Linked DNA regions of Homo sapiens. The protein of the gene in region 1 interacts with the protein of each later gene in a pairwise test. Each region holds a gene or a part of one and is shown in the gene's direction. Other genes may lie near its edges.

The links. The genes of interacting proteins can lie anywhere in the genome.
Region 2: the proteins of MZT2A (region 1) and DDX3X interact in binary tests that used the Homo sapiens proteins (3 or more experiments, as listed by UniProt).

What each region holds. Positions count from the first base shown.
Region 1 is NC_000002.12:131,489,598-131,493,771, reverse strand, and holds the start of MZT2A (mitotic-spindle organizing protein 2A), read left to right. Parts: upstream 1-1,374; 5' UTR 1,375-1,395; coding exon 1,396-1,565; intron 1,566-1,747; coding exon 1,748-1,896; intron 1,897-2,535; exon of another isoform or gene 2,536-2,612; intron 2,613-2,879; coding exon of another isoform or gene 2,880-3,059; intron 3,060-4,174. UniProt on the Homo sapiens protein: Required for the recruitment and the assembly of the gamma-tubulin ring complex (gTuRC) at the centrosome.
Region 2 is NC_000023.11:41,344,162-41,347,467, forward strand, and holds part of DDX3X (ATP-dependent RNA helicase DDX3X), read left to right. Parts: intron 1-77; coding exon 78-238; intron 239-1,018; coding exon 1,019-1,163; intron 1,164-1,242; coding exon 1,243-1,387; intron 1,388-2,067; coding exon 2,068-2,249; intron 2,250-2,343; coding exon 2,344-2,461; intron 2,462-2,697; coding exon 2,698-2,851; intron 2,852-3,150; coding exon 3,151-3,290; intron 3,291-3,306. UniProt on the Homo sapiens protein: Multifunctional ATP-dependent RNA helicase. The ATPase activity can be stimulated by various ribo-and deoxynucleic acids indicative for a relaxed substrate specificity.

The sequences.
Region 1 (4,174 bases):
CGTGCCATGCACCTAGAGTCCACTTCGTCGCGACTCTCCAACACCTATTTTCTCCAGGAGCTGCTTCGGACCCGTTTGTTTTTTTTGTTTCGTTTTGTTTTGTTTTTCTGACAGCGACAGCCCTTGGGCAACGCTAATCATTCCAAGCAAATTCTGTCATGCCAAGACCTCCCTTAACAGCACGCGCCCACTTGTTTCCAACTCTCCTGCGAATTGGGCTTCGGGAGCCTCCGAAACCAAGGCTCGGAGATGTGGAGCGCACAGGGGAAGGGTCGAGCTGGGACCCACACCCGGCTCTTCCTCCCACACCGCCTGTTGAGCCCAAGGCTCAATTTCAACACAAAGCTCTCCTTCCCTCAATTCCTTCAACGACGGGTAACCTTCAACGAACACCTACCGGACCAGAACAGAGTGTACGAGCGGCGCGGGAAGGTGGCACAAAGGCATGGCCCAGAGGAGTGGCAGGAAGACTCAGCCGGGGCCCTCCACTCCCCAGCCTGCCCGGCCTGGGCAGAGCCGCCGGGCCGCCCGAGTCCTGGGGCTCGCGGAGGAACGGAGATGGCCTCCGCAGGGGCTCGCGGAAGCCCCCAGGGCGTCGGACCGTCTCACGCGCGCGTCCCGCGCCACTCACCTGTGGGACCCATAGCGTCGCCCGCTTCAGAGGTGGAAGCCGCCATTCCGCCACCGCGCCAAAACGTCGTCATCAAGCTGCGCGCAGAGCCACGCCCCGCGGCCGGGCGGGAAAAGCGCTTCTACCTCTTTGGGCCGTTACCTCAAAAGGTACGTGCGCAAAGCGAAGAAGGCCGGCCGGCCGGCCAGGGAGGGGAAATGGCGAGGCAGGAGTGCGGGGGGAGGGAGTGGTCCTTAGCTGAATGCGCCTGCGTTGTGGCGGCCTCTGGCGCCCCAAGGTAGGGCTCACGCACTTTCTCCCTAGCAAGGAATGCGCGTGCGCGTAAGCAGGGTTGTTGATTAGTGCCCCCCACCCCCCCCGAAGAGCGACCCCTAGTGGTGCACCGGTGCGGACCAGAAAATTGCACGCTTTCTTGAAACAGGTATTGACTGAGCGCCCAATGTATGCCTGGCACTGGGCTGGGTGCTGCCACCTAAGCGAGCACGACCAATGCAAGTCTATCAGGGACGCCCTGACCGCCAAGCAGCTGGCCCCTGCAGTCCGCCATGCCACTCCCGACGCCTAGCGCGCCGCTCAGCACACCGTGAGCGCCCACTAACTGTTGGGCTCCAATGACGCCGAGGAGGCGGCCCCGTCCCCGCGCTCCCGCCGCTCCCGCCAGGGCAGCCCGGGAGGCCAGACGCTGGCGCTGCAGGGAGAGGGCGGTGGGCGCATCCGCTAGGGGGCGCGGCGGGGCGGGGCGCACCTTTCGGCGGGCCTCGCGGATGGCGGCGCAGGGCGTAGGGCCTGGGCCGGGGTCGGCGGCGCCCCCGGGGCTGGAGGCGGCCCGGCAGAAGCTGGCGCTGCGGCGCAAGAAGGTGCTGAGCACCGAGGAGATGGAGCTGTACGAGCTGGCTCAGGCGGCGGGCGGCGGTATCGACCCCGACGTGTTCAAGTGAGCGGGGCGGGTGGGGGCCGCATGCTCGCCAGACACCCCCGACCTCTGCTCTCCGGGTACGCCCGGCCCGCTGGTCGGGAGGAGCCCCCGCTGCCCCCGCCCCCGTCCTTGTCCGGTCTTCAGGGAGGTGGCCGCGCCGGGCGGAGAGGGCTCACCGGCCCCGCGTCTGTCCCCGCCAGGATCCTGGTGGACCTGCTGAAGCTGAACGTGGCCCCCCTCGCCGTCTTCCAGATGCTCAAGTCCATGTGTGCCGGGCAGAGGCTAGCGAGCGAGCCCCAGGACCCTGCGGCCGTGTCTCTGCCCACGTCGAGCGTGCCCGAGACCCGAGGTCAGAGCTGGGCCCGCTGTCCCTGCCCCAGTGGCGGGGGTGGCGGGCGGGGAGGGGGCAGGCGCGGCACAGCGGCGGCGTGGCCCTGAGTGGCCAGGCCTGTCTGTCGGTCGGTCTAGGCCCAGCACCTGCAGGGCCCATCCGTGGGCTCTGCTCCTGGGCTTCGCTGCCAGCCTTAGGAGGCACGTCCAGGTCAGGTGGACGCAGAGTGCGTGCCCCAGGGTGGTCCAGGCTGGGTAGGGCTCCTCCGCTTAGCTCCTCCCCACCTCTTCACTCAGGCCTTCATCCTACAAAGTCGGGAATCAAGACGGTTTGGGGCTGGGCGCCGTGGCTCACGCCTATAATCTTTGGGACCCCACGGCGGGAGGATCCTTTGAGGCCATGAGTTTGAGACCAGTCTGGGTGACAGGGTGAGATCCTGTCTCTAAATGTTTTTCAAAAGACAGTCTCGATCTCTGTCCTGTGGTATACAGCATCCAGGGAAGTGCCCAGGGAGCAGGGCAGGCAGACGTCTTCCTGCCTTTACCCCACCTGGGCCCAGTTCCTGCCTCTGATGATTGCAGGAAGAGAGTTAGACGCGGAACTCCCAGGGTGCAGAGGCCTGCGGGGTCTGAAGGGCCTCCTCCCTCTCCAGTGTGGTGACTGGGCTGAGGAGATGCTGGGACTGAGAGTGTCATGGTGGAGCCTCCGTCCCTGCTCATCCTCTCCGCATGTTGCTTCTGCTCCCGATGGCTCTCTCTGAAATGCAGCACAACCTCCCAGGCCAATGGAAGGAGGCCCAGAGCTGGCTCCCTGCCTGGAAGCAGGAGGAGACCCTCACAGGCATCATGAGAAGGCGTGGAAAGCAGGCTGCCTTCATGGGGGAAGTGCCAGGGCCTGGGCACCCACGCCCGCTGACCCAAGAGGGCCCGGGCACCTGCGTGCTGGCCTCTTCACTGACCCTCGCTCTGTCTGCTCTCTTTGTGTCTCTCTCTGACCTCCAGAGGCCTCCTTTCTCTCTGCCAGGAACAGTAGCCCCCCTGCAAGGCCCTCGTTTTCCTCCAGCCCGCAGCCTGCGGCCTCTCTGGTTATGCTCCACAGCCCAGCTGCCACACACTCACCTCTCTCTCCAGGCCCCCCGGGTTCCCTCCGCCTCTCTTGCTGCCTGTTCTCTCCTTTTGCAGGTTGCGTTTATTGGCTTATCTCTGGGGGTTGGTGCTCTTCCTTGTTTTCATGGAAACTGCATGGCCCCAAGAGGCCCAAGCAGCTTTGAGCTGCAAGGGCAGGATCATGCAGGCCACCGCTGCCCTGCCGCTTAGCCACAGGGCACTATTTCTGACTCGGTTTATTAGAGACATGGTGTGGCAGTCTCTAGACCCCACAGTCGGGCTGGCATCCGGGGACAGGACCAACATCCCCACACCCCAGAGGCGAACTAGTGGTGAGTGTAAAGAGCCCCTCTCCAGGGGAAGACAGCCAGCCGGGTGCAGTGTGCTCTGCTGGAGAGCACAGCCCCAGGCGTGACAAACGCCTCGGCCTCTTAGAAGTTGTCCCCTACCTGGACAGGAAGTCTGGAGGCTGAAACAGAGACTCCCACCTTCCCAGAGTCTGCCAGGCAGTGCCACACAGATGCCATGTGCTGGTCCCATGGCCACACTCCAGCACTCAGCCCCCTTGCCCGCCTCACTCCTGAGTTGGGACACTTTCCAGGTGTCACCAGGTGTGATCAGGGGCCTGTGAGAGCCCAGGGGTCTTTGGTCGCGCCTCCTGCATGAGCCTCCTGACAGCGGCCACCTCACTGCCACCCAGAGCTCAGGCCCAAGAGAGGGTGGAGAGGGCCTGAAGGACAGGCCTGGAGTAGGGGTGTATGGACTGCAGGCTGAGATGAGCAATTGAGGGGCAAGTGTCCAGCAGGAGGGAGAAACTGGGAACAGAGTTCTTGTCACTCCAGGAGATGTTGCTGCTCACTTAGCACTCACTCAGGGCTCTGGGTGCCAGGCCTAGCTCTCAGGGCAGAGGGCGTGGCAGGGAAGTGAGATGATCACACTCAGTCCAGTGAGAGGCAGTGAGGAAAACCACCAGTGAGACCAGTGTGCTGGCTCACACCTGTAATCCCAGCACTTCGGGAAGTCAAGGCAGGTGGATTCCTTGAGCTCAGGAGTTCAAGATCAGCCTGGGCAACATAGCAAGACCCCATCTCTACAAAAAATACAAAAACTAGCCAGGCAGGGCCCGGCGCGGTGGCTCACGCCTGTAATCCCAGCACTTTGGGAGGCTGAGGCGGGCGGATCTCGAGCTC
Region 2 (3,306 bases), on another chromosome or scaffold:
CATTGATTCTAATTAAATGTTTTATGAACATGTAAAAATTTTGACCTTGAAGTTCATAACATTTTTTTTGCTTATAGTTTTCATACCGATCTAGAGTTCGTCCTTGCGTGGTTTATGGTGGTGCCGATATTGGTCAGCAGATTCGAGACTTGGAACGTGGATGCCATTTGTTAGTAGCCACTCCAGGACGTCTAGTGGATATGATGGAAAGAGGAAAGATTGGATTAGACTTTTGCAAGTATGTTTTATTTTGTTTTTGTTTTTTTGTTTTGTTTTGTTTTGTTCTTTTGTTTTTGGCAGAGTTGCGCTCTTGTTGCCCAGGCTGGAGTGCCATGGCGCGATCTCGGCTCACCACAACCTCTGCCTCCCGGGTTCAAGCGATTCTCCTGCCTCAGCCTCCCAGGTAGCTGGGATTACAGGCATGTGCCACCACGCTGGGCTAATTTTTGTATTTTTAGTAGAGGCGGGGTTTCTCCATGTTGGTCAGGCTGGTCTCGAACTCCTGACCTCAGGTGATCCGCCTGCCTTGGCCTCCCAAAGTGCTGGGATTACAGGTGTGAGCCATCGCACCCGGCCAAGTATGTTAATTTTTAAATGTATGGGATGCAGTATTAAAGTTACTGCCCATTAGTTTTGTGGTGATGTTAACATTGTCTAAATGTTAAGGCTGAGAAGTGATGTATTTCAGACATCTAACTTTCACAAAAAGCTTGTTCATGGTAATTTTAATGTTGAAAAATCAGTAACATCTTGGTTGAGACTTACAACAATGATCAGCTCGTGGGACAGTCAACTAGGATGGGCTAATTTGACTGTGTAATCTTGAATGACTTATGTAGTGGCAAGAATCCTGTGCTGTGTCTGTAAAATTATGCAGTGTGAGGCACCATCTTAATGAATATATAATTGTAATAACCTATACAATTGTATTTGTAATTATACTAACAGCCATACTAAAACCATGTTGATTTCTCCTCAAATTCTAAACTCAGGCTTGTTTTTTTTCATGACATGACAGATACTTGGTGTTAGATGAAGCTGATCGGATGTTGGATATGGGGTTTGAGCCTCAGATTCGTAGAATAGTCGAACAAGATACTATGCCTCCAAAGGGTGTCCGCCACACTATGATGTTTAGTGCTACTTTTCCTAAGGAAATACAGGTACTGTTTGATGTTGCAAATTTTATTTATTTAGAAATTTGTTTATCTCAGGTAATAATAAAAATTTTTTTTCTTTCAGATGCTGGCTCGTGATTTCTTAGATGAATATATCTTCTTGGCTGTAGGAAGAGTTGGCTCTACCTCTGAAAACATCACACAGAAAGTAGTTTGGGTGGAAGAATCAGACAAACGGTCATTTCTGCTTGACCTCCTAAATGCAACAGGTAACATTATGAATTTTTTATTTTATTAGACATGGGGGTTTCTCTTTGTTGCCCAGGCTGGAGTGCAGGGGTTATTCACAGGTGTGATCTCATTACTGATCAGCATGGGAGTATTTGACCTGCTCTGTTTCTGACCTGGGCCTGTTCACCCCTCCTTAGGCAACCTGGTGCTCCCTTGCTTCCGGGAGGTTACCATGTTGATGCCAAACTTAGTGTGGACACCTGATAGGCATAGTACACTACAGCCCAGAACTCCTAGACTTAGACAATCCTCCTGCCTCAGTCTCCAGAGTAGCTGGGACTACAGGCACTCACCACTGCACCCAGCTAAAATTATGAATAATTTAATTGCTCTGGTAATAACCCATTTGGGCTGGGTGCAGTGGTACAGTGCATGTAGTCCCAGCTACTTGGCAGGCTGAGGCTGTAGTATGCCATGATTGCACCTGCGAATGGCCAGTGCACTCTCAGCCTGGGCAATTTAGTGAGACCCCCATCTCTTAAATGTATTTGGATTACCTTTATTACTTTTCCTCCTCAATTCAAAACATGCTGTGTTGAAAGCCCGTTTTTAAGAAGATATATATGTATTTTAATTGACACATTAAAATTGTGCATACATAAGTGCAAAGAGAACTAAGCCATGTTAGTGACAAAAACCTATAATTTTTCAACGACAGGCAAGGATTCACTGACCTTAGTGTTTGTGGAGACCAAAAAGGGTGCAGATTCTCTGGAGGATTTCTTATACCATGAAGGATACGCATGTACCAGCATCCATGGAGACCGTTCTCAGAGGGATAGAGAAGAGGCCCTTCACCAGTTCCGCTCAGGAAAAAGCCCAATTTTAGTGGCTACAGCAGTATGTATAAACATCTTTCTTTTATTCAAATTGAGCATGTTCAAGTATTTGTTTTCTTTTAAGTGGGCCATATCTCATAAAAGTTATTTTCCAGGTAGCAGCAAGAGGACTGGACATTTCAAATGTGAAACATGTTATCAATTTTGACTTGCCAAGTGATATTGAAGAATATGTACATCGTATTGGTCGTACGGGACGTGTAGGAAACCTTGGTAAGTATTTGATTACTTGATGGTTTCATTGTTTTTTGCTGTGATGTGTGCAGGAAAGAACTTGCTAGGATCTAAAATACATTTTTAACAATGAAAGTGACAAAGATTTTGCTCAAAGCACTTGTTTAAATATTACGTGGTAATATTTTAAATATTTCTACGTAGGAAAGTAAGAATAGTAGCAAGTTACTTTATGGAAGACCTTTGTTTATATACTTTTTTGGGAACTCTTTTAGGCCTGGCAACCTCATTCTTTAACGAGAGGAACATAAATATTACTAAGGATTTGTTGGATCTTCTTGTTGAAGCTAAACAAGAAGTGCCGTCTTGGTTAGAAAACATGGCTTATGAACACCACTACAAGGGTAGCAGTCGTGGACGTTCTAAGAGGTGAGGTATAAATAGTATATAATGAGGGGAATGGGTGTTCACTTACAGTTCATAGTGTTTCCTCTGCATGCATAACGTCCAAGGTTAACTGTACAGTATTTAAAAAGCTTAATCATCTTAGGCTTCCTAGATTCTTTGGTAAGGGGTTGTATTAGAATGGGTGACACTCTGTTGGGGAAAATATGGCTGGATGGGGAATTGTTTGAATGGAAAAATTAGAAATTGGTCATTAGGAAAGAGTTAGGTTACTTTAGTGGAATTTCATCTTCATGTGAACCAACATAATTTTTTTCTTATAGTAGCAGATTTAGTGGAGGGTTTGGTGCCAGAGACTACCGACAAAGTAGCGGTGCCAGCAGTTCCAGCTTCAGCAGCAGCCGCGCAAGCAGCAGCCGCAGTGGCGGAGGTGGCCACGGTAGCAGCAGAGGATTTGGTGGAGGTAGTGTTAATCTGTA